Regions from separate parts of the Homo sapiens genome. Here all the other regions are linked to region 1. Evidence: fine-mapped QTL for protein levels in blood plasma. A gene starts in region 1. Each other region holds a variant in brackets. All regions are shown on one strand. Distances are from middle to middle.

Region 1 (10,792 bases):
CAAGATTCCCAAAGAAGAGGGTGTTTCTGTGGGAGAGGGCTGCTGATATGGAGGGAGGCCAAGCTCATTGGAGTAGAGGAGGTTAGAGCAGAGACTAAATTGTCAGCTCAGACTTCATCAGGCTAATCTCCCAGGCCCATAGCATGAGACAATAGGCAGGAAGCTAGAGAGCCAGTTGCAGAGTCCACAGTGGCTGCAGGAAAGTGACCTGGAGGCTACAGATGATGGAGATAGGATGAAGGAGTATAAATTGGATGCTGGGAGTTTTAATGTAGGAGGGACTCTTATTATCTCTTACTTACTAGAATGTTGATCTGGATACGGCAATGGGCAATCGATAGAGGAATGCTCCAGAGAGCAGAAGGAAGGGCAAAACTGAATGGAGACCAAAAGACTGGAGAGACGGGTGATCGGAGGAGCTCATACCTTACATGGAATTGTGGGATGGGCCCAATCAGATTCAGGATTCCAAAGGTAATGTAATTATATATAATTGGCTGATGCCTAGAACACAGCAGGTTCTGAAGAAATATCTTTGTAATTAATGAATGTCTTTTGCTTTTAGGATTTTTTTTTTTTTTTTACCGTATGTACGTATGTATTCAGTTTCCATAACTTAGTCTTTAAACTTGCTGGCTCACCTGTAGACAGCTTCCAGGCCTCCTCACCACAGATTACAATAGATTATTCAGTGCAATTCAACTCCTTCATTGCCTATCTGTTTTCTTTCTCTAGAAATCCCTTTCTATAAAATGTCCAATTTAACTCTATATATAAGAGAAACAAAAACATAAAGTTTCTAGACTCTTTTTCTGAATTAATAAAAGTAACAATAATAACTGGGTGGGGTTATTGTGACCTCATTGCAGTTTACAAATTATCTCAGTTACCCATTTGTTTCTCAAAATCCCACAAGGTAGGCAAGATGGGTATTACTATGTCCAATTTTGCACATAATCCGTGTAGATAGGTCCTGTGACTTTCCAAGACTGCACAGCTTCACATGGTGAAAACAGAAGAGCCAGCCTGGAACCCATGTACTTCAAGTCTGAATTACGGTCTAGGACGACGGTTCCTTAAACTTCAGTATGAGTTTTTCTTCAAAGTACAGATTTAGTAGGTCTGGGATGAGGTTTCGGAATCTGCCTTTGAAGCAAACATCTGATGCTCATGTTTCAATGACCATACTCAGAAAAACACTAATCTAGAAAATCCTTTTCCCCCTTCTCTCTTAAAGCGGGGAGAAAAAAGAGGGAGATCTTACCTCCTATGAATCAAAGGACTTTTCTCGCCTTGGAGAACTGGAGCCCCCAGCTCTTCTCTTCTGCGACCTACCCACACACACTGATAAAGTTAATTATCTGCCCTGGCTAAATGACTTTCCTTAGCAACACCCTAGCAACTGACATCAGCTCTGCCTTAGGCTACAAAAACTGGAAGGAGATTTCTTGAAGTCCAGTATATTTTACAAAAGAACAAAACATCTGAACAGGAAATTAAGGGGAAAGTAAACTGGATTCATTGCTAGGAGATGAGAAATAGACACATGAAATAGTTCATGACAATCCACTGGACCACAGTAGTCAAAATGGGAAACTTTTTCTCCTCCTCAGTTCTACTGAAGTCCACAGGAGGGGAGACTGCAGGATCTCATTCTATGGAGGAAAATTTAATCAGGCAGGAGGAGGGAGGGCATTCCAGGCCATGAGAAAGCTGTAAGCAAAGGTGCTGAGGCAATACTGAAGTGGAGGACACGGGGAGCCCAGCTGGGTGGTGCTGGGAGCTCAGATTGGGATCTATGACCAGGCATGACCAGATGGACACAGTGAGACCAGATTGTGGATGGCCTTAGAGGCCAAGTCTTAAAATTTGGGCAGAGTCAGAAGGCACTGAGGGTAGGCTTGTTAAAAAGTTTTTATTCAGAGAAAAAATATTTATGGAACCCCTACCAGGGGCCGGGCACTACGATGTGCACGGAAAATACAGTGGTAAGCCCCATAGACATCCCCTACCCTTCTGGAGCTTAGAATTTAGAATGGAGACAAATACTGAACAAATGTAAAATTTTAAACATCAAACTTATAAATCAATGGGTCATTATAAATCTTAATATTAAAAGAAGCCAGGTGTGGTGGCTCATGCCTGTAGTCCCAACACTTTGGGAGGCTGAGGCAGGAAGATTGCTTGAGCCCAAGAGTTTGAGACCAACCTGAGCAACATAGGAAGACCCTGCCTCAAGAAGAAAGAAGAAAGAGGAAAGGAGAAAGGAGAAAGAAGAAGGAGGAGGAGGAGAGGGAGGAGGAAGAAGGAAGAAGAAGGAGGAGGAGGAGGAGGAGATTAAAAGAAAAGGTACTCATGAGCTTCAGCAGAGTTTTGGGGGCTGGATCTATTCTAGGAAATCAGAAAGGCCTTCTTTGGGGAGGCAGTTTTGCACTGAGATCTGAAGAGTACATAGGAGTTGGCCAATGGAGAGTGGTGGCTAGGAGAGACCAAAGAGCATGATAGGATTCCAGGCAGAGAGAACAGCACAGGCAAAGCCCATGAGAGAAGAGCTGCATGGCTGGAGAAGCAGATCAAGCAGAGCCTTGGAGGCCTGGCTGAAGATTCTGTCTTTATTCTGAGAGCCCTGAAAAACCACCAAGAAAAAATGTTAACCTCAGGATTGACATTCAAATCTGCATTTTTAAAAAGATCACTTGGGCTTCAGTGCAGAAGACAGATGGAAGGAGAGCACAAGTAGACAAGGGCAACCCAGTTAGGAAGATGAGAGAGGATGTCAACACAGACAGGGGTAGTGGTGGAGAAGAGCGTGAAACTTGATGTGGTGATGGATCGGATGAGTGGAGAAGACAGCAGAGGTCTGAGTGACAGCCAAGCTGGTTTAGGAAAACCTAGCTCATGTAGTGGGATTGGAGCTTGGTGAGCTGGTTAGAGCCTGCCGTCATAGCCCAGATGATAGGGCGAACACTGTGTACTGGAAAGTACCTCATTTGGTGTTGGGGATGCCTGTTTTAAATCCTGGCTCTTTCCCTTAATAGCCATGGAACATTACCTCAGCAGGTAATTTCATAGGCTCCTAATCTGAACAATGGGAGTGCGGAGGTGAATTGGGACTGCCTACTTCCCATAGTTTTCCTGTCAATATCCAATAAAAAGTTAAATATTGCATTCCTGCCTACTTCATGCCCACCCATCTCCAACTTAGATTTGAACCTTTTGTAGATGAATAGAGGTTCAAGAGCACAGATTTGAGCTTTCAGACATAAAATAAGCTTTGTGAAGACAGGGGTCACAATTTATTCATTTCTGTAGTTTCCTGCCCTCTGAGATAAGATCAGGTACACTTTCAAGAACCACTTATTTTAGTTTGTAGCATACATCACAATTATAATTTTAAAAGATTCATATAATTATGTATTTAATATTTGCCTTTGCCACAGGCCTGTAAAATCCTCAAAGGCAAGTAACATATCTGTGTTTTGTATCCAAGCACTGAGCACGTGGAGGGTCTTTGTCATGAATGAATGGATGGATAGAAGGATGCATGGATGGATGGATGGATGAATTTTTGTTCCGTCTTCTACCTACCGGTCAGCACAGAGTCTAGCTCCAAATCTACACTTAATGAAAGTTTGCTGGATGAATGGGACCGTGCAACTTGGAGTGCAGCATGAGCTCTGAGCCAGTCGAGTGAAGATGCAGACAATTCCCTCAGCACTCAGACATGGATCTGAGCCTCACCTCAAAAAGGAGGGCCGATCAGCTGGATCAGGTGCTGCTAGGGTCAAGAAGGGCTAGGGATGAGAGAAGAGCATAATTGGCTTCAGCAAGGGGTTACTTTCAGGTGACCTCTGAGAGAAGGCGTCCAGTTAATAGTGGCAGTGGGAATTCCAGCACAAGCACTAAGGAGTAAGTGGGCAGGCAGGGAGGAATGGAGATCTCCCATGCACCTAGCGCCCTGGGCCTGTTTGTAGCATTATGAAAGAGAAAACCCTGACCTGGAAAGCAAAGGAGATTGCTTGCTAATTGTAGGCACTTGAGGTGTGTCGAAGGCCCTGGGCAAAGAGAAGACGAGGAAACCAAAGCTTCTGAGGGCACCTGGGGAGGGATGTTTGTGTGCACTGAGAGGCAGGGGGCTTATGGTATCCCCAAGCGGGTGAGGGAGCAGGCGCCACTAGAGACCAACTAGAGTGTTTTATATGGGTCATATCATTTACTTCTAGCATATCACCCCACTACCTCTAAGAAGGATGTACTGGCACCCACCCCCACTTCCTTGTTCTCCAGAGCAGGAAACAAGCTTGGAGAGTGCGATAACTAGCCCAAGCTTCACAATGGGTGAGTGGCAGGACTGAGGTTTGATTCGGGTCTCTTCCCAGAGAGACACTGGGAGAGATTCTTGCCCCAGGTCTTTTCCCTTCAGGCCCTCAGGCTCAGCACCTCTCTGAACATCTGTCCCTGGGGAGTGAGAATCTGAACTAAAATGTAAGCCAAGAAAACACAGGCTCTTCATTGAATCTTTGGAAACTCCTTTCCTGGGCTGTAGGAGGACCTTCCTGAGCCTTAGGCACTTTTGCCTTTGCTGGCTCTTTCCTCCAAGTCAAGCATATTTTATGACTGTGGAGGTATAAATACAAATATATTAACATTATATAGTAAAACATTTTGTTTGACATAAATTTTTTCTTCTGATTTTTACAGAAAACATTTTCATAGATCTCCAAAAGTATCGTGGGCCCTAAGCGCTGTAGCTAAGTCGTTTCTCCTTTCTCAGCCTCCAGTCTGACATGTTCCACTATGGCCTTGGGAAGAGCAATGGGCCCGGAGTCGCCGCATCTAACCCTGCTGTAACTGGTCGCAAGTCACAGTTTGCTCATCTATAAAGTGAGCGAAAGTAATGTAATCTTTATTGGGAGTAGGGAACATGAAGGCGAGTCGATACAGTAAGTAAGCCGCCAAGCATATTGCTAGGCACAGAGCAGGTGTGCAACAAAAGTTATTTCTCAGGCTTTCCCTCCTCTGAGCGCCGTCCTCCAGAGGGTCCGGAGTGTAGCTGGGGGTTGGAGCAGCAGCCTCCTAGGCGATGGGACAGAGCCCACAGGGTCCGGTATGCCACGGTTTCTTCGTCAGACCCTGGGAATCCAACGTCGCAAAATAAACACGGCCGCGCCGCTAATCGCCAGTTCGGAGGAAACAAAACAGCGCTGCGCTGGGGGATCTGGGCAAAATCAGCCCTCCCTCCTCCCGCTCCTTCGCCGCGGCCCTCCCCTCCTCGCGCTGCTCTCGTTCGCTTGGCTCAGCTCAGCTCAGCTCAGCGCAGCTCCGCGGCCGCCAAGCCGAGGCGGGCACGGTCTCCGAGTCGCGGACGCCAGCTCCGAGCTCCCTCTCTCCGCCGCGCCTCCGCCAGGTCGCGCCTTCGTCGGGACCACTTCGGGCAGGAGTCGCGTGGCGAAGGCCTGCGGCCGCGGCACAAAGTTGGGGGCCGCGAAGATGAGGCTGTCCCCGGCGCCCCTGAAGCTGAGCCGGACTCCGGCACTGCTGGCCCTGGCGCTGCCCCTGGCCGCGGCGCTGGCCTTCTCCGACGAGACCCTGGACAAAGTGCCCAAGTCAGAGGGCTACTGCAGCCGTATCCTGCGCGCCCAGGGCACGCGGCGCGAGGGCTACACCGAGTTCAGCCTCCGCGTGGAGGGCGACCCCGACTTCTACAAGCCGGGAACCAGCTACCGCGGTAAGTGGCCGCCCGGCGTGGCATTAGGAGAGCGGGACCCGGTCCCCGGAGGGCGCCGACCTCGCGGTGCCGGAGGAGGGCGCGCGGTCTCCGGGCGCGTGGCGCGGGTGCAGCCCGGCAAGGGCCCTTCTGTCCTGGCTGCCCTCGGCCCTTGCAGTCGCGAGCTCGGCGCGGATCATAATCCAGCGTCCCGGGCCGTCGCGGGGGCCGCAGCCAGGAGAGGCACCCCGCGTTTCCGACGCGCGGTTCCCAGGCGGAGGATGTAACTGAGCCACACGTCACGCCGGCCTGACTGCAAGGGAGGCTCGCTTCTCCCCCGGCCGTCTGCAGGAGGGAAGTAAAACTGCCTTTCTCCAAATCGGTCTGGAGGGGACCCAGGCTTCTCTTGGTCGGGTCCCGGGCAAGGCAGCCACTCCAGCTTTCCCCGCTCAGTCCCTGAAGGAGAGGGTACCCGATTCTCAAAGACTGGCCCTGGGCGGGACAGCCACTCCGGCTTCCCTGGATAGGTCCCTTCAGGAGAAGGGACTTTGGCTTCTCCCTAACCGGTCCCGGGGTGCGGGAAGGAGGGGCAGGGACAGCCTAAAGCTCCTCGAAAGGGTCCTTGGAAAGAACCCCAAATTATTCTCTCGTGGTCCCAGACGAGATAGAGTATCTTGGGTTTCCAGAACAGGTTCCCAGTGGGGACAGGGTCCTCAAAGAGCTTGGGGTAAGCTCCGAGCTGCAAGGGGAATTGGATGAAGATGGAAAGAGAAGCCCCGATGCCCGAGGCCTGCTCCCTGGAGGCCGGGGAACCTTGGCTCCGGCAGCTCGGAGTCTCCACGTCCCAGGGATGTCGCGCCTACGCCGCTCGGCTGAGAGTGGGGTTTCGGGAGCTCAGGGAGGAGGTGTCCAAGCAGGTGAGAGCCTCCTAGGCGGGACAGGCAGTTCGACCAGCACCGATCTGAAGACGCCTGACTCTGTCCCCACGCCCGCCACCTCGCTCCTCAGCAGGGTCATCTCCCCAGACATCGTTTCCCCGTGCAGCAGCAGCCGCTCTCCGGGTGGGGGACAGGTAACCAGGAAGGGAAGCGAGCCTGTCTGGCCTCACCTTAGCTCCCGCCAGGGAGCGTGTCCTCTCACCCTCGCCCCTTCATAAGTCAGCTCTGGTGCTAAGCAGGGATGAGCGGGTCACTGGGGCACCTGGTGGGGCAAATGGGCTCCCAGCTGCTGTACTTTCCTCCTCGCCTTCCCAGTTCCCCAGAGAGCCTTGGACGGAAGCGGTGGGAGCAACACAGGAGAAAGTCTGGGGCAGCGTCAGCGGGCGCCAGGGTCACGCCGGAGACCAAAGCCAGGGGCCACCCTTCTTGGAGCGCTTTTCCCCCTTTCCCGGGTTTGTGTCCCCGACTTTCTCCACCCGGAGCTACCCAAAGCCGGCTCCTTGGTGCCCTTGGCACCTTGGCGTGCTGAGCACTTTGCGAGGAACAGTCTGACCCCGGCGCGCAGCTCCGCGGGATCCTGGGTACTCCACGAAGAAAGATTCTGGGCGGAGAACACCCCGCCCAGCCCGGGAGGGAGCGCGCGGCTTGGCACCGCGGCTAGAGCGAGCCGCGCCGACGGGCGGCGACTGCCACTCGGTGCAGCCGGGAGGCGGCCGATCCTCCCTGTGGACCGCAGGGAAGCGGGTATGACTTCAGTGGCCTATTCGGCCCTCCCCAAAACTGAGGACCTGAGTTCACAGGGGAAACTGTCCCCGCTCCACGTAGCAGAGAAAGAAGTGGCTCTGGAGTCCAACAGACTTGGGTTTACTCGCTGTGTGACCTTGTGCAAGTCATTTAATTTCTCTGCACCTATTTCCTAGCTGGAAAAAAAAAAAAGCTGTTTATCCACCCTCTCTTGGTGGTAGGGAGTAAATGAGTTTACAAAGGTGAGTGTGCCTGAGCTAAAAGAGATTCCTAATAAGCCTAACAGTTGAATGTGAGGCCTTTATTGGTTTACTAATGGAGGTAGGTTCTTGATCAGATTTTTGTTTTTGAAGAGTGTTGTGCGTTTGAAAGCAGGTTTCCTCAGCTCTCCTCCAGTCCCATTCATCTACCAGTGGTTATTTGGGTCCTCATGAATTAATTGAATGAATGAATGAGGTATTTTTTCATATCAGGAGCCTTGCCTAAGACTGTTGCTAATGCAAGCCCAGGAAGATTTTTTCAGTGACTTAGACTAGTCTGAGGTTCAGGCCAAGTGTACCCAGCGTCTCTTTTCACACTAATCCTCCGTGTTTTAGTTGAGCATTGGCAGCTGGTGGCCCTAGCACTGGGAAGGAGATACAGCTGGTATTCACGGGGCCAAAGAGGTTTCAGAACTACCTAAACGTCCAGGGCCAGCAGGTGGGGAACTGGGACTGGATAGGGAGTGTCCTGGACTTTCACCCTACAGGCTACTCCTGCCTAAACAGCCATCTGGACTTTGACACCCCAACTCAGGCTATAGATTGGGCAATCATCTTTTCTCCCTTCTTATGGCTAAAAGACCTTGGAAGAGATCTTGCAGGAACCATGCTGAGGTTTTCCAAGTAAATATCCTGCAATTAGCAAACCTGATTCTGCCACTCAAAGTCCGAAAGAAAAGGTACTGGCCTAGTTTGTGACATTTTCTGTTGGCTCCTTCTTTCTTAGAATAATTATGTTAAAAGTAACTCAAACACATTCTGCTCATTGTCCTGACTTAAGGCTGTGAAGCTGGCATTCCCCTGGTGTTCTATTTGCTTTTTAATTTTTTCATGAATTAGGATTCCTCACAATCCTTGGAATCAATGACTTGTTTTCCTGCCTCAAATCTTTGTCCACAGTATTCCAGTTCATCCCCAAGCAGCTTCTGTTCTTTGTGCCTGCTGTCTAAGTACAGTCTTTAGGTACTCTAGACCGGAATAAAATGGTCACTATTAAAAAAGACTGAAACATGGAGTTTCTTCCCCAAAACCTGAATCCAGTTGAGATCATTATTTTGTCTTTTCCAAGTTGTTAGTATTATATTGATTTCCTTTTCTTTCCCACCACTTCTCTCTACTCTCCCTCCCTCTTCCCACAGTCCCCCCTCCCTCCAACGGCAATAATTGTGCTTTAGAAAGCTCTGAAAGGCCTGCTCTGTTTCTGGCCAGGGCCTCCTTTGAAAAGGAGATTACAGTGATTAAAAATAACAAGTTGAGGATCCTCAAGGGGCTTCCCTTATACAGGAGGACAATTCGCAGGACCAGCCTTTCCCAGATCACAATTTCAAGCCAAACAGAAGAAAATCCACTGAAATATTCAAGAATTGATTGAAAATAAAAGAGGCTCTTTTGTCTTACTGGAGGTCTGTTTATTAGGAAAATAAAGTCAGACTCTGGCTAATGAGAGTGGCTTTTCCTAGATGTATTTTAAAGAGACATTTCAAGGAACTTGATGGGAAAAGAATGTCCAGTAGAGGTTTCAAAAGCTGGTCCAACTTCAAGCATAATTGAGGGGTTTATCCTAAACTGGGAGGTTTGGAGACCTCCAAAGCTGCATGGTTTTTCCTTTGTCCCACACTGAGACACACACTGACCACAGGGGTGGACACCTCAGCCTGGTGGAAAGCGCACAGGCTTTGATGTTGGGTGGGTTGGTTTCAGGTCCTCCTTGGTCACATATTCACTGTGTGATCTCAGGAAGCCACTTCACCTCTCTGAGCCAATTTCTCCATCTGTAAAATGAGGGTGTTTTGATTTTTTCCCAGCATTCCTGTGAGAATTAGAAATAATTCATGTCAAAAGAAATTGTCACACAGTGGTTGCTAAAAAAATATGTTATGAGATGATTATTTTGGAAATAGAAAAATACTTAGCAGCAAAGCCCTGGATAAGATATTGTGTTAAGTTCTTCCGACTCATCTCACTTATTCCTTACAGTACTTTGAGGAAGTTTCTGATCGTTACTGTTTTATGGATGAGAAGACTAAACCTCAGAGAAGTTTATTCCTTATCCATGGTCACACAGCTAATAATCAGCAGAATCAGGATACAGTCTCAGGTCTGTCTGACTCCTAAATCTGTGCTCTTAACCAGTCTTATGTGCTGACTCAATGAAATTAGTTGGGAATAGAATGAAATTCACTCAGCTACCCTCAGCCTTCTGGATGGTGAGCCTTCCTTCAAGGAAAACAGAACAACAAATCAAGATAGTAACTGACATCTCTCAGGAGAATTACTTTATATTACTACAAAGTAATATAAAGTGATAAATCCTTATTCACATTTGCTGTTTTCTCTTATTGGCTTCAGTGTTGCATTTCCCCATAAACTAGAGGATTAATTTAGAAACATGAAGAACCTTGTCAGCCTTTGGCCAATTCCTTTTGTTTGTGGGGAAACAAAAACAAATTGGATAGGAAAAAAAAAACCCAGAAAGAAAAAAAAAAAAAGAAAAAACAGATTTGACTGTTGTTTTGTTTTTACATACAGATGTTATATGACCATGCCTGTAAAATTATATGTTTGGAAAGGACATATTTAGGCTCTAAGAAATTTACACAAGATGAGGTCTTTTAAATAAACTATTTCCTGGATGGTGGAGTTTTTAAAAACTTAAGTGCTGCTGATGATATTATAATTAAGCCACCCCTCCTACCTCTCTTCCCTTTTTTGCACCATTCCCTGCTTTTTTGTTATGTAACTATTTCTAACCATTACTTAAGTATTTAGTTCAAACTGATAATAAAAATTAGAAAATGCAAACATAGCTAATGCTTAATGGTTGTGGAGATTGTTTATTGCTCTGAGTTTTAGGAAATGAAAGAAATAAAAACATACAAAAAAGCATATCAAAATGGAATTTTTCAAGGTTTAAAACTTGAGTACTCCCCCATACACAGATAAGCTGTTTCATTACAGCTGACTCTTTCAGTTGCATCAAGAAGCTATAATCACTGATACGTTTACCACTATGGGCTGGTATATCAGGAGCTTTTCACTCTCACACTGTCCATTTGCTTGTTATACAGACTGTCACATATATATAGGTCAATATCAATTTCTGTTGTGAGGTGGGGGGACTCTTACCATGTTATATTAGTCAT
Region 2 (10,792 bases), 38 kb after region 1:
GGGTAGGGACACAGAGCCAAACCATATCATGGCCCCTGGTATTAGGAGGTCAAAGTCTACAGAAGAACTTCCCAGTTCAGTATTTTATGTACACTGGTGGATCACAGATAGGTTGAAGGAGAACCCAGATGTGTATTTCCCTAGATATTAGGGTGGCCTCCTCTGTTTACCCTAGGGAAATATTACCATTTTCTATATGTGACATGGAGTCAAGAGACCTGTTAGAAAGAACCATATTGCAGCCTGCTAGATGCTAAAATTGCTGCATCTGTGCAAATAAGAAAACAATCATTTGCAGAAAGTGGGTAGTGAGTGCTGATTTGGGAGCACAGAAAGGACATTTACAGAGACAATAACCTTTGAGCTATCTCTTAGAGTCGTTGAAATTTCAACTGGACAAGGAGTGAAGAGTGTGTGTGAAGACCACTCTATTTTTGCCTCACACCTCTATTTTAAAATTTGCCATATTTTAATGTTTTACTATATCTTCTTTAACAAGCACCTAGAGCCTCACAAGGGCCTAGTAAAAGTTTTTTTTTTTTAATAAGAAATGAACCAGGGGATAAATGACATTCTGTCCCTTCCCCTTCCCTTGAGGAGCTCACTTGGTGTAAAATGCCTCTGCAGAGCTATAATGCACAAACAACACATTTTAAAAGCGATGTCAACACCTCTTGCTTAACACTTAGTTTTCTTGCTTAAAATTGCCGTGTGAAAAGTCATTTGTAAGAAGCACAAGAAGCAATGTGCACTGTGAGTGCCTGGAATGGACATTGGGTCCTCACACTTCTGCAGCCCTGGTCTCTAGTGCCTGCTGCCAGAAAAGATGAAAAATCATTTTCCTTCCCAGCAAGAAAGCCTGAGTCTGGGAACCAGAGGTATTATTAAGACTTAAGCATCACTCCTCTCAACAGAGCACACTTGTGTTTTGTGTTATAAAATACAGAAAAGGATAAATACAGAGAAAGATAAAAAAGAAATAAAAATATGTCATTTTATAATCTAGAGATAATCATTAACATTTGGGTATATTTCCTTCCAGGTTATATATTATATAGAAAACACACCTATGTGTGTATATATATATATACACACACACCTATATATATAATTTTTGAACAGAATATTGGAACCATTCTCTATATAGGGTTTTATATCCTGTTTTATTTTTATGGGAACATTATATTGTGAACATATTTCAATGAAATTAAATGTTCCACATGATTTTTAATGGCTTTGTAATACTCCATCATACTGTTGAATTATAATTTATTCGAAGATTCCTCTATTATTGGCAAGATAGGTGGTTCTAATTTTCTTTTCTTTACTTTTATATAAAACACTGCAGTGAACACCGTAACACATAAATCTTTGCACCTGTATTTGCTTATGATAAAAGCAAAGTTTTATGCATCTGTATTTGCTTATGATAAATGAAATTATAGGGTCAAAGTAAAGTTTCTCTCTCTGTACATACTCACATGTATGTATGCACACATGTATATGTATATATGAGCTCTATTTCTGGAGGCAGCCGTTTGGGTTTTGACAGTGTCAGTGGTGGGCACACAGGTTAGCATCACAGTAGAAAGTATTCCTATTTTCAGGCTGCTCTAACTACTCAGAAAGGACCATGCATCTAGCTTAGCTTTGCTATTTAAAATATACAGCGAGTATGTGGAAAGACTTTGGGTTTTGGAATCATTAGATCATTGGACTAGGAGTCAAATTCTGCCCTACTAGCTAAGTCAAGAAGTCTCTGAATTTATCTGAAACTTACTTAGTCCCTTCATCTACAAAATAAAAATGATCAAAATAAAATAATGTATGTAAAATGCCCAACACAGTGCCTGGACATAAGGGACCCTCAATCAATGCCTCCTACTTCTGAGCCAGCAGCCTAGGGTGCATTTTCCACATTTCTGTTTACAGTGAATCATAAACTCCATTCCTCTGTAGATTTGGGCATTTGTGGACCACTAAGGAGCACATCTGAATCTTGTCAAAGGTGTAACTACTAGCTATCTTTCCAACTCCACAGGTGAGGAGAGAGACAGTCTTCTCTAGTTCATTCTATCTTTATTGTAATAGGATTGGGATCGCTGTAAAATAAAATGAAAAATTTATGCTATGGATACATGATGCGCAAACAAAATCTGTTCAATGTGGGTGGTTGGCTGGGCTCTCAATTGCTGGTTTTATGAACTACTTCCATATAGCAGCTTCACCAAAAATGGAATTTAAATTATACCTTGGCAAAAGGCTCCGCACCAGAGGTATGAATGGATAGCGGAAACCACACTAGATACTATTCTAGTTGCTTCGTATACTTTAACTTTCTTCCTCTTGGCTGGAAGTTCCATGAGAGCAGAGACATCTTTCTTTCACAACAACACACACAGTGCTGGGTGCCATGCTGAACACATAATCAAAGCTGAGTAAATATTAGTCACATAAATAAATGTATTAACCCCTCTTCAACTCAGATTCCACTGCCTGCCCACATACACACCCATGAAGTAGGCACTCTTATTATTATTCCCATTCACAGGAAAGTTAACACTGAGGGAATCAGAGCATTGATCGATGGCACAGAGCCAGTAAGTGGCAGTGAACAAAGACTAAGCCACCAAAGGCCTGTGTCATTTTCTCTATTCTGCATCTCTTACAGCTCTGGGGAGAGATGTATGGGAGAGACAAGACAGAAATTTACTGCTAAACCCCTAAAATCCTTTCTGGGTTATTCCAGGGGTCATACCAGGTTTACAGCTTCACAGATCCACCAGGTCTCTTCCAGGCCTTTGAAATGCCATCTCTTCTGTCTTTCCTGACATTCACATTTTCCTTTCATCCCATTTGGAATCTGTGCACCCTGCCTCCTCTCTGAGATCTCAAACACTTGGCACATCCCTTTGTTCTAGTTCTTCGCTCACTGTGTTACCCTGATGAGTTAAATTCCCATTCCCCTACAAGATTCTGCAAAGAGGCAGACAACTGGGCCATGTCTGTCTCTGTATTCCTGTGGCCACCCCTGTACTCCCCTGGCCTCACCAAGGCCTGGCACACTGGCCAGGTGATAAGTGCTTTCCAAATTGATGGATATCTGCTGCTGGAATTGCTGGCCTTACCCACTTGTTTGCAAACGTTAATTGGTCTCCTACTTTCTTGCATGGAACTAGCATTGTTTCCACATCTATTTTCTAAAGGTCTAGAAATCATTTTCAAATACATGATAGACTTCTTTAATAGACAATACATAACTTTTATGCAAAAAAGAACTTTTTCATGTATCTATTAAGTAGTTTTTTAAAAAGCCAATAAGTTCCTGTGGCCTTGCAATCCTCTCATCTTTAAAATGAGAGTGATGAGCCTCCATTCCAGATCTAACTACTTTATGGGATAGCTCTTAATTCTGGTTTTGCAAACACTTAAAGCCGTTGTGTTTGTTTTTTAAAACAGGTAAAATCTAAAGAGTAAATGGGTCATAGTTTACTGAAACAGTATCCTATTGTAGGATATTTAGAGAATTTTTAATACTATAAATAATTTAGCAGTATACATTCGTATAAAGAAAACCCTCTTATTTCATTTATGAGTATATAAATGACACTGTCGTGTGTAAGGCATGTTCTAGGCTCTGAGGATATAGCTGACATAACAGACAAAAATCCCTACCCCTTTGGACATTATACTTCTATATTTTAGATCATTTCCATGAGATACAGTCCCATGTTTCTGGATCAAAGAGTTTTTAGGCTCTTGATACACATTGCTGTATCATTTTCTTTCTTTTTTTTTTTTTTGAGATGGCATCTTGCTGGATGCAGTGGCATGATCTCAGCTCACTGCAACTTCCACCTCCCGTGTTCAAGCAATTCTCCTGCCTCAGCCTCCTGAGTAGCTGGGACTACAGGCACCCGCCATCACACCTGGCTAACTTTTGTATATTTAGTAGAGATGGGGGTTTCGCCATGTTGGCCAAGCTGGTTTTGAACTCCTGACCTCAGGTGATCTGCCCACCTCAGCCTCCCAAAGTGCTGGGATTACAGGTGTGAGCCACCGCGCCTGGCCTGCTATATCACTTTCTATCACACCTGACCAAGTAGGAGTTTGAGTAGGAATCTGACTCAGAGCTTGCTTTTAGAGAGTATATAACCTTTGCCAAGTTACTTTGTCTTGGTTTTTCCCTTGGACACAAACTTTCTCTCCAGTTGGCCCCCAGCTGGTACCTTATGTCCTATAGTCCTTTGTGTTCAGGAGGACTGGGTGTTGGCTGGAGGAAGTAAGTTTGGCTGGAGGAAGTAAGTTCCCATCCTTCTACCAGGTGGTTACTAAACAGATCTTGCAAATCCTGTTCTCATAAAATTACCTCTTTGGAATAAAGTTCAATACCTTAGATTTTTGCCCTGACAAATTAATTATTCAACATGGTTCATCTCTCTAGCATTCCAAGGTT[T/C]TTCTATGTTAGACATCTTTTATCCGCCATGGTTGATCACTGTCTTCACAGCATTATGTCATCTGCAGAGTGAACAGGTCTGTCTCCCTAGGCATGGATATATGCCTCAAAAACTCTATTTCCTCATCCCTCTACCTGGGATGCTCTCAGGTAGCCACAAAACTCCCTCCCTCACTTCTTTCCGGTTTCTGCTCAAATGTCACTTTTATCAGAGTCCATTTCTGACCATATTTTATAAAGCAATACCCTCATCATTCTAAACCCCATTTGCCTTCCTTTATTTTATTCATCTGACTTATCAGCCCCAGACATGTTATATGCTTGATTGCTTATTAGCTATTACCCCTACTGCAATGTGAACTCCACAAGGGTATTGCTTTGTTCAGCACTGCATCTGTTCAGCACTATAATAGGGCCTGGCACATAATAGGTGTTTAATATATAGCTGCCAATTTATTGGGTGTGCTTTTTTGAAATCAGCCTAAGAAACAAGTTGTTTTTTCATCATGAAATGACACTGACTTATGGTATTGATAAGGATTCTGGCCCCCACCCTCAGCCCATTTTCCCCCCAAAGTCAGCTGACACCCTCAGGACTTCTTCACATGGACCAATATGAAGATACATGTGCATCACATGCACAGCCACACACCCCCTGGCCCCTCCAAAACAGCTTGTACTTATGTGGCTGCCTTTCTGGGCCCTAGCATTGGGTTTTACCTGAATCCCAATTTTACCATTTTAGTGACAACATAGCCACTCCACCCCTCATTAACTATATAAGCTTGGCCACTTAATTTAAACTTGCTGAGTTTGTTTCCTTGCCTGTCAAAATTGGAGTAATACTAAGTCGAAGAGTTGTATAAGAACTTCTAATGTCTACTGTGACATGTGAAGAGCTTAGAAATCATCACTCCTGTCCTCATATGAAAAAAAGCTGAAAAACTGAAAATCAACAACTCTAATTACTTCCATCAGAGAACTGAGGTCATGAGGCAAACCTTCGCCACCTCCTTCCTCCTCCACCCCCCAAGAAATGGAGAGACAAGTGAATACTGAAAATCACAGATTCTCAGGAGCTGCTGGAAACAGTAAATGGTAGGAGGACTTAAAGGCTAACTGATGACTAGCTACAGGCTGAGTGTAGACTGCTTGGAGAGTTAAACTCCTGGGAGCCCAATCCTGAAGGGACTCCCACACTTTTGTGAATTTTAACCCCAGGAGCCCTCATCAGGTTCTCACGGTGAAAATCAGAGAAATCTCCTCCAGCTTGAGGCATGGGAAGGGAAAAAGAACCTTTTTGAAATCTGGCCAGATGCTTCTCCCTAACAAGGTCTGCCCTCAAGGAAACTACTTTACCAGAGTCTTATCTGATCCGAAGAAAGAACAATTAGCCAGGTCCAGCCCTGTCTAGCCTTCCTGTCTCATATAAAGGAAGTAAAAAAAGGCTAAGAAACTTTTCTGAAGACCACACACAAAGATTCTGCCCCAATAAAATATTGAGATTTAATCAAAAGATAGACCGTTACCCTTTCCCAATATGTTACCATTACATCAACAAGGCTCAGTATAACAACAGTGGATTACAACAGAGAGGGCTGCAAGGCATAACCTCTACTTAAGAAGGAGTTTCTAGGGAAAACCAAAGACAAAAATGAGAAGAAAGAATGACAAACAAACATAATAACCAAGAACTGCAGGAAAATTACAAAAGATGTAACATACGTATAATGGGAATATCAGACAAATAGAGAAAAGAATAGAAGAAATATTTGAAGATTAGATGAAATAATAAAAGGGCTATTATGGTAAGTAGTTGGTTCATACTAAGTGATCAATAAATGGTAGTCATAATTACTATTATTAATTGATCAACATATCAGAGGAGGGAAGAAGAGTTGAATCAAAGGCAACTGTTTAAACAGGACTTAGTCATGATCAGGCACAGGAGGGAGGACATCTTTCTTGACATGGGGAAAACAAGCAAAACTGGTAAAAATATACAACAATTTGATGAACAAGAAGGAAAGTGAGAGTAGATAGGATTACACAGGATGCCCTCCATATAATTCTGACTTTAATAGTAATATCTTCCTTATAGAATTACTGAGAAAATTAAATAATTTATAACAATGGTTTTCAACTGGTAATGAACATCAGAATCTCCTGGATACTTGTTTGTAATTCATCTCTCTGGGCCCCAAGTCAGAGAATCTGATTCTGTGCACCTAAGGGGGTGAGGAACTGGGGCTGCGGACCCTGCATCTTTTATAAGCATCTTATGTGAATCTGACACAAGTGCCCCAAAGAGCACCTTAAGAAACACATAAGCATGTTGATTAGTGACTGACCTGAAACACAGTCAACAAATGTTTTTCAAGTAGACAGAGGCAAGCTGATCTGCAGAGGGAAAGGACAGGGCTGAAGACTGGGGAGATGGAGCAAGTGCAGGAGGAATGTGGTAGGGAGTCCATGAGAGATGGATGGAAGGATCGTGTAGCAGCAGAGACCCAGTTTAGAAAACACATATTCCTAGAGGAGACTTTGAGATTGGATTTGTAACTTTCTTCATCAACTCCCAAGAGCCTGGTGGCAGGAGCCAAGCAGACAGATGGTACAGTTTTCCCAGAACTGGAAAACCCCAAACACAGTAGAAGATAGGGGGCACAGGCATCCACCAAGGGGAGAGAGAATCAGGGAACCAGGGCACTGTTGAGAAAGCTGGTCAGGGGTTCAAGTTGGCCAGGAAGATAGTACCTCTACTATCTACCTATAATTTTTTTAAAAAACCCCAAAGTCCTAGGACCCCACATCTCCTCCAACCACTACCTCATTTCTCTGCCCCACCTCGACAGCCAAGCACTTCAAGAGAGTTGTGCCTACACATGTTTTACCCACTTCTCTGCTGTTGTTCACTTCTCGACCCCCACCAAAATGGCTCTTGAGTCTTGACAGTTTCTGCAATGGCCTCCGCGTTGTCCGTGCACACTCCATCATCTTGCACACATTCCTCAGTATCGCAGAGGGAGCTGACCACTCCCTGATTCCTAGAATATTCTCTTCTCATGTCTTTCTGGTTTTATGTATTTTGCCCCAAAAAGTGGCAGCAGGGGAGTTCCCACACAAGAAAGTGCAACACACTATCCTGAAGTGGGGCTGGTTGGGATTCCAAAGAAAGGAGCACTAAGCACCAGTGAGATCAGTCCAAAACATTTATTAGGGGAACTTACTTACAGAAGTGCTGCAGTGATCCCTGCACCGAACAGCGAGAGAAAAGGGATGTTCTGCCCAGGCACAAATGCAGTGAGGGGTCCAGGGTATGGAGTTTTTATGAGGGTTTAAGGAGTTTGGCTCAGGGATGGGGCCAGTTTCTTTCAGTGTTTTAGGCAACAATCTAGATACCTTTGTCAGTGTCTGGGAATGTTCAAGGCCCCAGTTTGGGATTAAGCCTGCTGGGAATAACCCACATTTGGCTGGGTCACAGAGTGGTCAAGGCACTCTGTGATTTTCTATCAAGACACAGAAAGAAAGCGGGAGAGCTGAAGGGACCTACATAAGCACTATTGGCATTTGGGCCATATTTGAGGTTTACAACATAATGTTATGTATAGATAGTATACATAATGATATATATATAGATAGTAAAATGGTTACTGCAGTGAAGTAGGTTAACATCCATCATTGCACATAGTTACTTTTTTTGTGACAAGGGCAACTAAAATCTACTTAACCAAAATCCGTAATACAATTTTTCATCCTCATGCTATACATTAGATCTCTAGACTTGTTCATCCTATATAACTGTTATTTTGTATCCTTTGACTTACATCTTCCTATTTTTTCCTTCTCTACCCCCTTTGATAATCACTCCCTTATCTATCTCTGCATATTTGAGCTCTTTTTTTAAAAAAATGTTTCACATATAAGAGAGATCATGCAATATTTTTCTTTCTCTTTCTGGCTTACTTCACTTAGCATAATGTCTTCCAGGTCCATCTTTGTTGTGGAGAATGGCAAGATCTCTTTCTGTTCTAGGCTGAATAATATTCCATTACACACACAGACACACACACACACATACACACACACACACGTGTACATGTTCTTTCCCCATTTGTACATTTCCTACATTTTCTTTTCCCAAATGAACATGGACATTTAGGTCGTTTCCATATCCTGGCTATTGTTAATAATGTTGCAATGAACATGGGTCCACAGGTGTCTTTATGAGGTAGTGAGTTTATCTCCTCTAGGTAAATACCCAGAAGTCGGATTGCTGTATCATATGATAGTTTATTTTTAGTTGAGGAACCTCCATACCATTTTCCACCATGGCTATACCAATCTACGTTTCCATCAACAGCATACAGGGTTACCTTTTCTCCAGACCCTTACCAACATTTGCTATCTCTTGTCTTTTTGATAATAGCTATCCTTATGGATGTGAGATAATATCTTATAGTGGTTTTAATTTGCATTTCCCTGATGATTAATGATGTTGAACACCTTTTCATATACCTGTTGGCCATTTTTATATTGTCTTTGGAAAAAATGTCTGTTCAGGTTATTTGCCCATTTTTTAGTTGGGTTTTTTTGTTTTTCTGCTATTGAGTTTTAACAGTTATTTACAAATTTTAGATATTAACTCCTTATCAGATATGTGAAATGCAGTTTTTTGTTTGTTTGTTTTTTCAGTTCGTAGTTTTCCTTTTCTTTCTTTCTTTTTTCTGTGTGAGACAGGGTCTCACTCTGTCACCCAGGCTGGAGTGCAGTGGCATAATAATAGCTCACTGCAGCCCCAAACTCCTGGGCTCAAGTGATCCTCCTGCCTGGGTCTCCTGAGTAGTTGGGACTACAGGTGCATGCCACTATGTCTGGATGATTTAAAAAAAATTTTTTTAGAGATGGAGTCTCACTGTGTTGCCCAGGCTATGCCTTTTCATTTTGTTGTTTGTTTCCTTTGCTGTGAAGAAGGTTTTTAGTTTCATGTAGTTCCATTTATTTATTTTATTTTTGTAGCATGAACTGTTGGTGTGATATCCAAAAAAATTATTACAAAGGCCAATGTTGAGGAGGTTTTCTGCTATTTTCTCTTCTAGGAGATTTATGATTTCTGAGCCAGATAATTCTTTGTTGTTGGCAGCTGCCCTGTGTCCTCTGGGATGGTTGGCAGCACCCCTGGCCCCTGGCCCCACCAGTTGTGATAACCAAAAATGTTTCCAGATATTGTCTGATTCTGATGTCCCCTAGAGAACAAGATCATCCCCATTGAGATCTGCTTCTCTAAATGATGCACTCTCCAAACTCTGTCCTGTAACCTTTTCTGTCCTTTCTCTGCACAATTAGACTCATCCGTTCCATGGCTTTGAGTACCATCTGCGTGATAATGACTCCCATTCATGCTCCACGTTGAGATTTGTGGCCCACTTTGATGTTCTAGACCCTGGGCTAAATTAAGGTAAATTAAGCCTGGGGCTTTTCAAATTAGACAGAGGGAATGTAAGCCCCTGTTCTACTCTTGCTGTGTAACTTTAACTCTTTTAACCTTTGTTTCTCTGTCTGAAAAACAAATAATAAAGATGTCAAAGCTGTAAAGATGATCATTAGAGTCCTTGGCACATAGTAAGTTGCTAAGTATTATTATAACATTCATAATTCTGATCTCAATGCCTTCAGGCTATGCACAAAGGGCTTCTGGACTTAGGGTCATTCAATAGAATGTTATAGACTGTTGAAAGTTCAACTCTAGAGCCTGAGAGACCTGGGTTCAAATCCTGAATCTACAATTCTGCTCTATGACCTCTCTAAGGCTCGGTTTCTTCCTGCTTGGAAAAGGGGAATAATAATATTACCCACTTTGGAGGGTGAATCAAATGAGATCATCCTAGGAAAATCAATTAACATGATGTCTAACATACCAGTACTTAATAAACATTAGTAATTATTATTAGGGTAACATTAGAGAAGCTGATCTTTAACTGAATCTCAAGGGCTATAGAAAGAGCAGTCTCGGCAGAGCATGAATAATGGGACAGGGTAAGGAAAAGTGAGCTATAATCTGGGAATGACAAGGAGTTCTGGATTGCTAGTGCAAGGTTAGGGCTTGAGATGAAACTAATGAATTGTCATCTAAATGCCCTTCCACGCCAGTTTGGGACTATGGGCTTTATCCTTTTAGTACCTGCTAGCAGAAATTGTTTTTTGGTTTTTTTTGGCAAGGGGAGAGGGACACCAAAGAGTTTTAGATTAGGCAACAACATGATGATTAAATTTTCAACTTAGGAAGAGAGCTCTCATCAATATGGAAGAGCTTGGAGAAGATAAGAACAGAGGCAG
Region 3 (10,792 bases), 63 kb after region 1:
GTGATTGATCTGATCTGAAAGCCCATCATATAGGATTAATTATAATAAATGGTAGTACATCTTGGCAGTGGAATACCAGGAACAGTAGAAAAGAACTGAAGTTCTGGAGTCCCACAGCCAGGGTTTAAATTCTGGTTCTGCCATTTACCAGCTGTGTGACCTCAGCTCTCTGTGAACATTTCTGGGACTCAGTTTCTTTAGCTGTAAAATGGGATAATTATAATACTAACTCATAGAGCTATAGTGAGGAATAAGGATGCAGATATAAGTGAAATACACTGAATATTTCTGGCACAGATTATTATGCAGTAATTTAAAAAGATTTGGCAGATTTACATGTATGTTTAAAAGATTGTTTATAAGATGTTAAGAGAAAGAAATGAGGTTACAGAATATCACGATATAATGATCCAACAGGTGGTTTTATCTGGGAGGTAAAATCCTGGGCACAATTCACTTTCTACTTTATACCTATTTGTATTTTTTACCTTTAAAACAAGGCATTTAATGTCTTATTCACCTGGCCAATTATAAGCCACAGGAGGGAAGCTACCATTTCTGTTTTGTTCACCACAGTATATCATAATATCTGGCATATTACAAGCAGATGATAAATATGTGTTGAATGAGTGTATGAAAAAATAGTAAGTTGTGTTTAGAAGGAAATTCCATAGGCCAAGAGTTCAAAGATGCAGTAGTTCTGCACCAACAAGTCCCCGGGTAGACCTCAGGGACAAGGCTGCAGAAATGAAGCAGAAGTCAGGGCTGAGGGTTGTATATTGGTCTTCAGTATGAATGCCTCAGCTTCTGAAACAGCTCAGGTTGCAAAACCTGAGGAAGAAGAGGGAAAACAAGCCCCAAAGCACCAGGATCCAGTCCCTGGTTTTGTTCAGCACTTCCCAAACAGGCTGAATCTGAGAGCCAAATCACATTTTAGAATTGCAGGGCATTTTGGTGCCATTGAGTCATTTCAACTTCAGAAAACCCAAGGCCCTGGAAGGAGGAGTTCTCCAAGTTCCTACAAGACCTGAGACGACCCTGCCCTGTGTTTCCCAATTCCTGCTCTAGTGCTGGCTCCTTCTTCCAAGGACTGAACATTGTAGATTTCTGATACACACGAAGTTGTTTTCAGAGGATGTCCATTCATTTGACTCCTAAGAAACCCAGTTCTCTTAAGCACAATTCAATGGCTTGCGTCTCTAAAGTTCACTGATCACCCATCGCTCTTGCTCTTTATTTGTAAAGAACAAAGGGACCAGGGATGTAATTAACTCACCCACATTTCCCATTGTCCTTAAGTCTTTTGTGCAAGCATTGATTGTTGTTTTTATTGTTGAAAGCAGAATTGTTCTCCTGGCAACACACATCCAGAAAGAGAGCCCAGTGAGGGACTCAGCAGGTGATGCTGTTGAAGTTTGACCTTACCGTTTGGAAGAATAAAAGAAAAAGCCAAAAAAAGCAATAATTGAGCAGAGGGTCGTTATGAATTGGTTACTATTCTATACTATTAAATGCTTTGGGAGAAAAGACATTTGGTTATTTTTAAGTGCATTTAGGAATTCAGAATATCAGCCAGCTGAGCTCCCAAGTACAGGTCCTCAGGGGATTCAGTTTAATGAATCTTTAAGAGCAGCCTGTTGTTAACATATTACAATTAGCACAGGTAAATGGAGGATTCGAATGTGCTTCTGGCAAATAATCTGTTCTCACTTTTATATCTTAGTCATTACTTACTCATACATTGATGTTTACTCTGAGGTTGTTTTGCTGGGAAGAAAGGATACACTTAGCAAAGCAAGATGATATGGCAGAAGAGAGCTTGAGATTTGGGATCTAAATATGACCGGGTGGAATATTGGCTCTGTTCATTAGTACAGTCGTGTGGTCCTCAGGAAATTGCTGAAATCCTCTGAATCTGTTTCCTCCTCTATAAAATGGGGATTATAAAACCTGTTTCAGTGGATTGTTCAGCTGATTCAACCAAATCATGTTAAAAGGGCTGCTGCATAGCTCAATAAACTTTAGCTTCTTTCCCTCAAAGTTAAGCTTTTCTTCCCTGTTCATCTAAAAAATCAAGCAATGAATTACTGAAACCTTTTCATAGGGAAGAGAAGGCAATGTTTTGGGTTCTTTACCCACATTTTGCCCATACATTCGACTTTATCCAAAGAACGCTTTGAGTTGCTGCAACCACCTGCACGCTGAGAAGACAAAGGTGAGGAGTAGGGTTAAAAGCAGGTTCATGTAGGTTCAACTGGAAAACCAGCTGCCACGGAAGCCTCAGGCATATCTAAATTTGTTCCTCCCTCTTTTCCTTCCTAACTCCTTAAGGTTTGTGGGCGGGATCATGTAGGATGACGACAGCCAAAGGGAACCATCCAAGGCTCTGAGGTGGAGGGAGCTCTGCTTGTTTAAGGAACTGGAGCTCGGTGGGTGAGACAAATGGTGGCAGGAGATGATGCCTGAGAAGTTGGCAGGGACCAGATTAGGTGGGGAATTGCAAGCTGGCATTATAAAGTTTGGATTTTAAGTGTAATGGAAAGCCACTGGAAGTCTTTAAACAGGGAAGTGACATGATTTATTATTTTAAATGTGCGCTCTGGCTTCTGTGGGAAGATTGGATTGTAGGGGCTAAGTATGGAAGCAGAGAGATAAGTTAGAAGGTTGTTGCAGTGGTTTATTGAGTTTGGGTGCTTTAGGGTGCTGGAGAGAAATACTGTGAAGGTAAAACTGACAGGCAGTCAAAGGTGAGGCTTAAATGAAATAACATAAATGAAGTGCCAAGTGTGTAGTAGATAATTAACAACACAAGTTCCCTCTCTTCGTGCTACAACTATATCAACAAAGTGATGTTTTTCTCTGGAATTGGATATAGGGAGATGATAAATTAATAACCACATTTTCTCAGCTATGGATTTGTTCTTTGGAGGTGGGCTGACTGGGAGATGGAGGTCAGCTTTTGCAGATCACAGCCTGCCAACTGGGAACACTTGCGAAAGGAAGAAATAATAGAAGCAGGAAGCAGGAAAGGAGGGAAGAGCAGTATGGAAAAAAGACTGGGCCAGGTGCGGTGGCTCACGCCTGTAATCCCAGCACTTTGGGAGGCTGAGGTGGGCAGATCATGAGGTCAAGAGTGCAAGACCGGCCTGACCAACATGGTGAAACCCCATCTCTACTAAGAAAACAAAAATTAGCTGGGCGTAGTGGTGGGCGCCTGTAATCCCAGCTACTTGGGAGGCTGAGGCAGGAGAATCACTTGAACCCGGGAGGCCGAGGTTGGAGTGAGCCAAGATTGGGCCACTGCACTCCAGCCTCGGTGACAGTGCGAGACTCCATCTCAAAGAAAAAAAAAAAAGACTGGAAGGAGCAATTTGGGGACCTTATCTCCCTCACAAGGCATGTGACAGTGGTATGGCTTGGCTGCTTCAGTGCCCTAGTACTCAAACCCCTAAAGGGAGAATGCAGATGGACAGGTGCAGAGGTCATGGGGAGCACTTTTGGGCTTCAACCCCACGGCAGTATCTTGGGGTGAGTGCTTACGACTCTTGAAGCCCCAGTGGGTGTGTGTTACAGTGTGCTCTTTCTGCTTTGCCATCTGCAGGTGGCTTGTGTTAATCAGCTCAAGTAGACCCTCTGCCTTATCGCAAGAGCAGAGGGCTTTCTGTATCCTGAGTTCTTGCCCAGTGTACCAGAAAAATTTGATCACAGGTGGGCTTGGTGCAAGGTTCTGTTGAGTGGTGGAGGTGGCGCTCAGCAAGATGGATGGGGGGCCAGAAGAGGGATGGAGTGGGAAGGTGGTCTTCCCCTGGAGTCAGGCTACCCAGTGGCAGACTGTCCTCTGATGGCCCCTGGCTGAACTCCCCTCAGAGTCCGCATTGTTCCACCATCGCTGGTCTGCCAGTGTCTGCTGGTGTGGTCCTCTGCTCCTCCGATGTCTAGCCGCTTGTGTGTGTGCCTGCTAAGGTCTCGGGTTTATATGGGCACAGGATGGGGGGCATGGCTGGCCAGAGTGGTCTTGGAAAATGCAACATTTGGGCACAAAAACAAGAGTGCCTGTTCTCTCTTAGGTCCATGGGCACAGGCCCAAGGGTGGAGCCCCTGCCAGGGACCCCACTCTTCTCTACCCAGGGCTTCCCTGCCCTACTTCCGCATCACTGAGAAATGTGAGGACATTGGTGTGTGTGGAAGGTGCTGGCATAACAGCTGGAGTTGCATCCTTCAAGTGACAATATAGGTATATCAGGGCAGTCTGCTATGATTAGAACTGAAAAGAATCTGGAGGCCATATCATCTGAATTCCTCATTTTAGGAAACTGATCTCTAGAGAGAAAAAGTGACTTGGGCAAAGCCACAGAGATAATGGCAGAGGCAGGGCTGGTAGCAAACTAGAGTGGGAAGAGATTGAGTTTTAAAGTAAGAGACTGGGGGTGCAGTCATTTATTCAGCAAACATGTACCAAGCTCCTGTTCCATGTCAGACCCAAGTCTAGGCACCGGGAACACAGTCAAATAAAACAGACAAGGCTCCTGCCCCCATGGAGCTTACATTCTCATTCCTCCTCTTACAGACTCTTCTGAGACTACCATGGCAGTCCACCTAGTTTGCCTTCATGAATCGATTTCCTCTTCTCTAAAAAGGGAGTAGCAATACCTCTTTAATTTTAATTAATTCATTTATTCATTCTACAAATATTGATCAAGTATATATGATGTGCCAGGCACAATGCTAGGTGCTGGTGACCCAAAAGTAAGCAAGGTAGAACCAGCCCCTGCTTTCAGATATGACGAACTAGAGGCAAGATGGTTGTCATCTTAAATGTCCATCAAAATCACCTGAAGCCCTTAGGAGGTCACTGCTGCCCTGGCCCCATGCCTGGAGCTGTCGATTCCACTGCTCTGGGGTGGGGCTAGGCATCACTATTTTCACAAACCTTCCAGGTGGTTCTTATAGGGGTGGGGTGAAGAAGTGCTGGAGAGGCAAAGATAAAGGGTCATGCGGGTGGTGGTTTGGCAGGTGGAGGGTGCAGCCTATCAGACCTGGGTTCTTGGGGCTGGGAAATGCTTCCCAGAGGAAGTGACTCATCAGGTGAGACCATGAGTAGGACTAGTCCAGGAACAAGAAGTGGGAGCAGTGTCTGGGAAGGCCAGAGCCCCCAGAGGTTGCTCTGAGGGTAAAAGGGGTAACAGAGGTGGACCATAGTCCGTGGTCAGAGACAAGAACTATGCCATTGTTCCTTTGCCTGTTTCTCTCTCTTTGTTCTTTCCAGCCCCACTCCCTTCCTGTTATGTTCTTTATCCTACAATACACCATACTGACAGCACAACAGCTGATTCTCCAGCTCCTAATAATTATCTGAAAGAGCTTCCTCCTGTCATCCATCTCATGTCCACTGCTTCTCTGCAAGGCAGGAGCCAGCCTCCGGCTCCCTTCCCACAGCTTCCAGCTCAATTGCCTCCCTACAGCAGAGGGAAATGCTCTCTTTGCTGCATGATTTGATCAGTGTATTCCCCCCAACCCTCCACCTTCAGGTGCACAAAGACAAAATGCATTCTCTTCAGATATTTGATTTGTTTTGCAAGTAAGTGCTCAGTACCCACCAGCTGATAACCACATTGGATGTGTTTGACAAATAGTCCTTGAGTGTTACCATAAATCTATAACTTGATGAGAGATTCTTATTGTCAAAATATAATTAGATCAAAGTTTGGTATTTCCCAAGGGTGTAAGGAAGTTCATGGATGTGTACCATATTCAGTAAGATATACATCTGTGCATGATGTCTGCCATTGTCACTCTAAAACAAGAGGGAAATCTGACATGCTTTTACGTCCTAAAGAAGGAAGATATTCAGTGACTTGTTTAAGTCTCTTCTGAAATAACCCTCAGCAGAGCCTGAGTTTATTCTCAAGGCGAGGGGGTGGGGGAAACGGGGTGCACAAACAGTTTTGATCCCATGCCGATGTCTGCTGACTTACGCAGAGAATACAACAAGCTTCAGGGTTAAGGAAAGGATAACAGGGAGGTTGAGAAAGAAAAATCAGTCTGCTGGAAATGTCATTGTCTTAAGCGAGGGTGGAGGAGAGTTGGAGAGTCCTTCTCTTCTATGTATAATCTTCTCAATGCATTGTAAAATGTTTTAAAGGGATTATATTATTTCTCCTGCCTGTGAGGTTACCCCAACTTGTCTCCTCCTCTCTCCCCATTTTTCCCATTTTTGGCTCTTTTGACATGTAAGTGAGACCAGAAACAAAGGCTGTCATCTCATCCAGG[C/T]AGCCATTTGTCCACACTTACCAGTAAACTGAATTTGCCAAGAACTCCCACTCTGCAGTCTCTGGGAGAGGCAAGATGATAAGCTTGTGCCTCTGATAAAGCCTGCAGCCTGGGATGATCTGGGCTGAGTGGGGAGACTGAATCCATGGGAAACTGCATCCCTTGAGGAGACTCGTCTGGACTTCTCTCTGCCGGGAGGCACTGGCGTTGTAAGAAATGAAGGAATGGGGTCAGGGGTGGGGAGCATCCACAACTCAGATGTTTAAAGAGCCAGAGCTGCAAACAAAATCTGGCTAGGAACAGTTTTCTTCGACTGACCTCACTAGATGCCTCTTTCCAAAATTCCAAGCCCTCTTGGGGCACACGGGGTCTTTCTGGAAGTTGGTGATGTCGTGGAAAGGTCACTAGGTTTGGATCCAAACTGCCTAGTATGAGTTTACCATGAGCTTCAATAATCTGATCAAGTTCCAACATTCCTCTGAGCTTCAGTTGCTTCTGTGAGATGGAAAACACCATCCCTTCTCAGGACTGTCAGGGACTTTAAATGAGCTGACATAGTTAATACAAATAAACCACCAGCACAGTGACTGGGACACAGAAGGACCTCAGCAAACTGAGTTTTTGCTCCTTTTTCCTTTGCTAAATGAAATCAAACCATTGCAAACCCCATTAGTGTATAAGAGACATTCATTTGTCCATCCCTGAAGGTGTAAGCACAATATAAAAAGGCTTCCCAAACTACTCAGGCGGAGCAGGATAGAGAGATGTATGTTTTGCTGAGCTGATCATAAATCTGAATGAAGTAATTATGTAAAGTATTCAAGAGCAATTCAGTAAGAAGATGCCTCATCTGCCTTGATGGGCTTTTCAATTACTCATTTTTAGTACTGCATTATACTGTTCTCTGGCAATAATTATTAAACATTTCAACTGTACTGCTATATAAAACTTAAAAGGCTGATTTATTTCCTAGGCATTAGACTACATTGAATAAAATCCCCCAATTACATGGTTCTATTTTTTAAAACCTGTTTATCAGTGATTTTCTAGTATTGAGTCAAAACTGACAGCAGGTCCTCATGTGAAAAATAAGGGTACAGTGTGTTAAATCCAGCGGTTATTAGCTTTGGGGTCATGGAGGATATTAATACAGACCCCCTACTTGCTAGTCCCAGTTTCTGAATCTGTAAAATGGGGATAATTCCCACTTCACTGGATTATTGTTTGAAATAATGGATACAAAGTGTTAGCAAGAATGTAGAGTCTGTGCCAGGTTTGGTGGCTCACACCTGTAATCTCAGCTCTTTGGGAGGCTGAGGCAGGAGGATTGCTTGAACCCAGGAGTTTGAGACCAACCTGGGCAACATAGACCTCATCTCTACAAAATATAAAAAATAAAAAATATTACCTCGGCATGGTGGCGTGTGCCTGTGGTCCTAGCTACTAGATAGGATTGCTTGAGTCCAGGAGTTCAAGGTTATAGTGAGCTATGATCTTGTCACTTCACTCTAGCCGGGGCACAGAGTGAGACCCTGTCTCAAAAATAAATAAAAATAAAATTTTAAAAAAGAATATAGGGTATTTACTTATTAAACACTAGATATTCTGAGATTCACTGGCATTTACATATAGCCAGTGAGAATCTTCCCACTTATTCAGTGTATATGCATCAATCACCTACTAGGCTCTAGGCACTCAAGATGCCACCAGGGCCCATTCTCTGATTGTCACTTCAATGACTCAAAGTCATGGTCATCAAGCATCTAGCAGCTCCAGGTCCCCTTCTGGGCTCTGTACACAGGACATCTTTCATCATGTGTAGCCATTTTCCACATAAGGATGTGTACTCACAGAGAGTTGGGTGACTTTACTCAAGGTCATTCAGTAGCTAAGGCAGAAATCAGACCTATGTCTGCTGGCTCCAAAGTCCACATCTTCTCTCCCCACTACCCCATGCTACCTCTCAGGATTCCAGGAGCACATTTCACCTGGTTTGAAGGATAATTCCTCCTCCTCTTCCTGGTTTTTCTAGAGGAGATAGCTCTTTTCTTATTGAGGATTACCCACCCCTGAAAAATTACCACTTTCCCGAAGTCTGTCTCTACTTTTCTCAGCATCTTCCAATTCTCACCTGGAAGATGAGGCTTTCTATTCTAACTGAGGACTACACCATGATTCAGGCAGTGACCCCTACACACACACACACACACACAAGCATGTGTGTGCCCAGTTCTACTGGAGCCTGTCCATTGTACTTGAGGCTCCCAAGCCAAACTGGATTTAGGTGCAGGCCAGCTGGGCTGGTACCCTGGATACCAGTCTGTAAAGAGAACTAAAATGCTGCTGGAAATGTAATACAGTGGAGAAAATGGTCTTTACCAGAATTGTTGAGAGCAAGCGGGACACGAGAATGATAATAATAATATTTATCAATGCACAGTGATTATAATATACACTGATAGTTTTGTTGATAAACTTTCTCCTTAGTTCAGCCAAAACCGGGCTCTTGTCACATGATCAGGAAAAGATTAGGCTTGTGGACACAGAATGGTGAGGAAAACAGAATTTATTGGGTGAAAAGGAAAAAGGAAAAGCAACTCTCAGCAAAGTGAGAGAGTCCTCCTATCAGGTTTCCCGCCTCACACGTTGAATCCCAGGTCACCACATAGCAACGGGAGAGGCCAGGCTCCTCCCCACTGAACTTCCTGAGGCTCCACCCCATTCTCCCAGTGCTCAGGTGGGCGTTATTCAGAAAGAATCAGTCAGGAAAGGGTGGCTTCATCCAGGAAGTGTAGTCAGGTTTTTCAGCCTTCAGGCTGTTTTAGGTTTAAATATGGAGTTTTGCTGGGGACCCTTGGCTGCCTCCTGTCTCCACTGGTTTTGTGCCAGAAGCTTCTCTAACAACTTTGTATATGAATTCATATAAACACTTCTGGCCCATTGAGGTAGATGCTATTATCAGTCCCCATTTTACAGATAAGGAGAATCAGTCCAGAAAAGTTAAGGAACTTGCCAGAGTCACACCAGTAATAAATAGGCTGCTGGACTCTCCTAGGACTTTGTATTGTCTCCTGGTAGGGGGAAAACCCCCAAGAGCACTTAAGTGACAAGAGCTGGTATCTCAGTGACCTTCCAGGCCTCTTAGTTGCTGGGTGAGGTATGCAAGTTTAGGGCAGCAGTTGAACTACTCAGGTTAATAGAGTGAGCAGTGCTGAGCTGGCAGTCTGCCTGCCCTCCTCCCACGCAGCACTCAGCCTATCCTCCAAATGAATGTTGGGCAAATATTTAGAGAATATCGTTTTGAAAGGGGGCCAGGTTATTAGCCTGCCCAGGGCGCCTACGCATCTTGGCCCAGCCTTGCTCCCAAGCCTGGCCTGCTGTCTGTGCTCCTAATATGTGAAACAACTCACATAGCATGGAGGATTAATCTGCTTTTGGGGGAGAAATGCAATCTGGTGTTTCTCAGGACTAAACTTCTGTGGATTGGATGCCACATGCCCGGTGCCAGAGGGTCCGCCAATGGTGCTCGTGGCCACGTCACCTCCCCCACAATCCCACGTGCTTCTCAAGTCTGGAAAGCACAGGGTACACTCCCGGGAAGAGAAAATAAAGCAAGTGAGATTTTAAAAGATGAATAAGATGGAGGTAAGAATCCGTTTGAAGAGATGCTAATGCAAAAAGGGATGCTAGTTCAGAGACATGCAAATCAAAACTACAACGAGGCACCACCTAACAGCAGTCAGAATGGCTGTTGTTAAAAAGACAAAAAATAACAGATGCTAGCAAGGCTGCGGAGAAAAGGGAACACTTGTACACTGTAGGTGGGAATGTAAGTTAGTTTGTCCACTGTGGAAAGCAGTTTGGAGATTTCTCCAAGAACTAAAAACAGAACTAGGATTTGTTCCAGCAATCCCATTACTGGGTATATATGCAAAGGAAAATAAATTGTTCTACAAAAAAGACATAAGCACTCATATGTTCATTACAGTACTATTCACAATAGCAACGACATGGCATCAACTTAGGTGTTTGTCAGTGGTGAACTGGATAAAGAAAATGTGGTACATATATACCATGGAATACTACATAGCTATAAATAATAAAATCTATCCTTTGCAGCAATATGGATGCAGCTGGAGGCCATCATCCGAAGCAAATTAACTCAGGAACAGAAAACCAATACCACATGTTCTCACTTGTAAGTGGGAGCAAAACACTGGATTCATATGGACATAAAGATGGAAATGATAGACACCAGGGGCTACCGGAGCAGGAAGAGATTAATGGGGAAAGGTCTGAAAGACTACCTTTTGTGTACTGTGCTCACTACCTGGGTGATGGGATCATTCGTAACAAACCTGTACATGTACACCCTGAAGTTGAAATTATATATTTTTAAAAAGGATGCTATAACTTTTGTGAAAGTTAGGCTGGAAGATGGGGGTATTTGTAGGGAAAAGGGACAGGATTTAAGCCTAAATCTTTACAGTTTAGAAGAGAGGCCACTGACAAAAAGTACACT

Alleles and levels. Positions count from the first base shown, and alleles are read on the strand shown. Strength reflects both the effect of a copy and how common the allele is. Not every link is listed here.
With allele T in place of C in region 3, the plasma level of the protein whose gene starts at base 5,309 in region 1 is lower (strong association).

The links. A credible set is the group of variants that fine-mapping cannot tell apart. PIP is the chance, under the fine-mapping model, that this variant and not a neighbour inherited with it causes the effect. The UK Biobank Pharma Proteomics Project read protein levels with antibody pairs (Olink). The fine-mapping took linkage between variants from a reference panel, not from the people measured, so its PIPs are less certain.
Region 2: its variant is the best candidate, but not a certain one, in a credible set for the plasma level of the SPON1 protein (UK Biobank, PIP 0.50).
Region 3: its variant is the best candidate, but not a certain one, in a credible set for the plasma level of the SPON1 protein (UK Biobank, PIP 0.82).

What each region holds. Positions count from the first base shown.
Region 1 is chr11:13,957,415-13,968,206 of GRCh38, forward strand. SPON1 (spondin 1) reads left to right here and starts at 5,309. Exons shown (of 16, transcript NM_006108.4): 1 at 5,309-5,728. The coding sequence starts at 5,491. LOC124902637 (a long non-coding RNA gene) reads left to right here and starts at 5,743. Exons shown (of 2, transcript XR_007062602.1): 1 at 5,743-7,631; 2 at 9,627-10,455. RefSeq lists an enhancer at 8,594-9,112.
Region 2 is chr11:13,995,636-14,006,427 of GRCh38, forward strand. All of the region lies in intron 2 of SPON1 (spondin 1), which reads left to right. Among named protein-coding and RNA genes, the nearest start is that of SPON1, 38 kb to the left of the region's middle. The variant T/C (reference allele first, on the strand shown) is at 4,457.
Region 3 is chr11:14,020,663-14,031,454 of GRCh38, forward strand. All of the region lies in intron 2 of SPON1 (spondin 1), which reads left to right. Among named protein-coding and RNA genes, the nearest start is that of SPON1, 63 kb to the left of the region's middle. RefSeq lists an enhancer at 1,023-1,530. The variant C/T (reference allele first, on the strand shown) is at 6,271.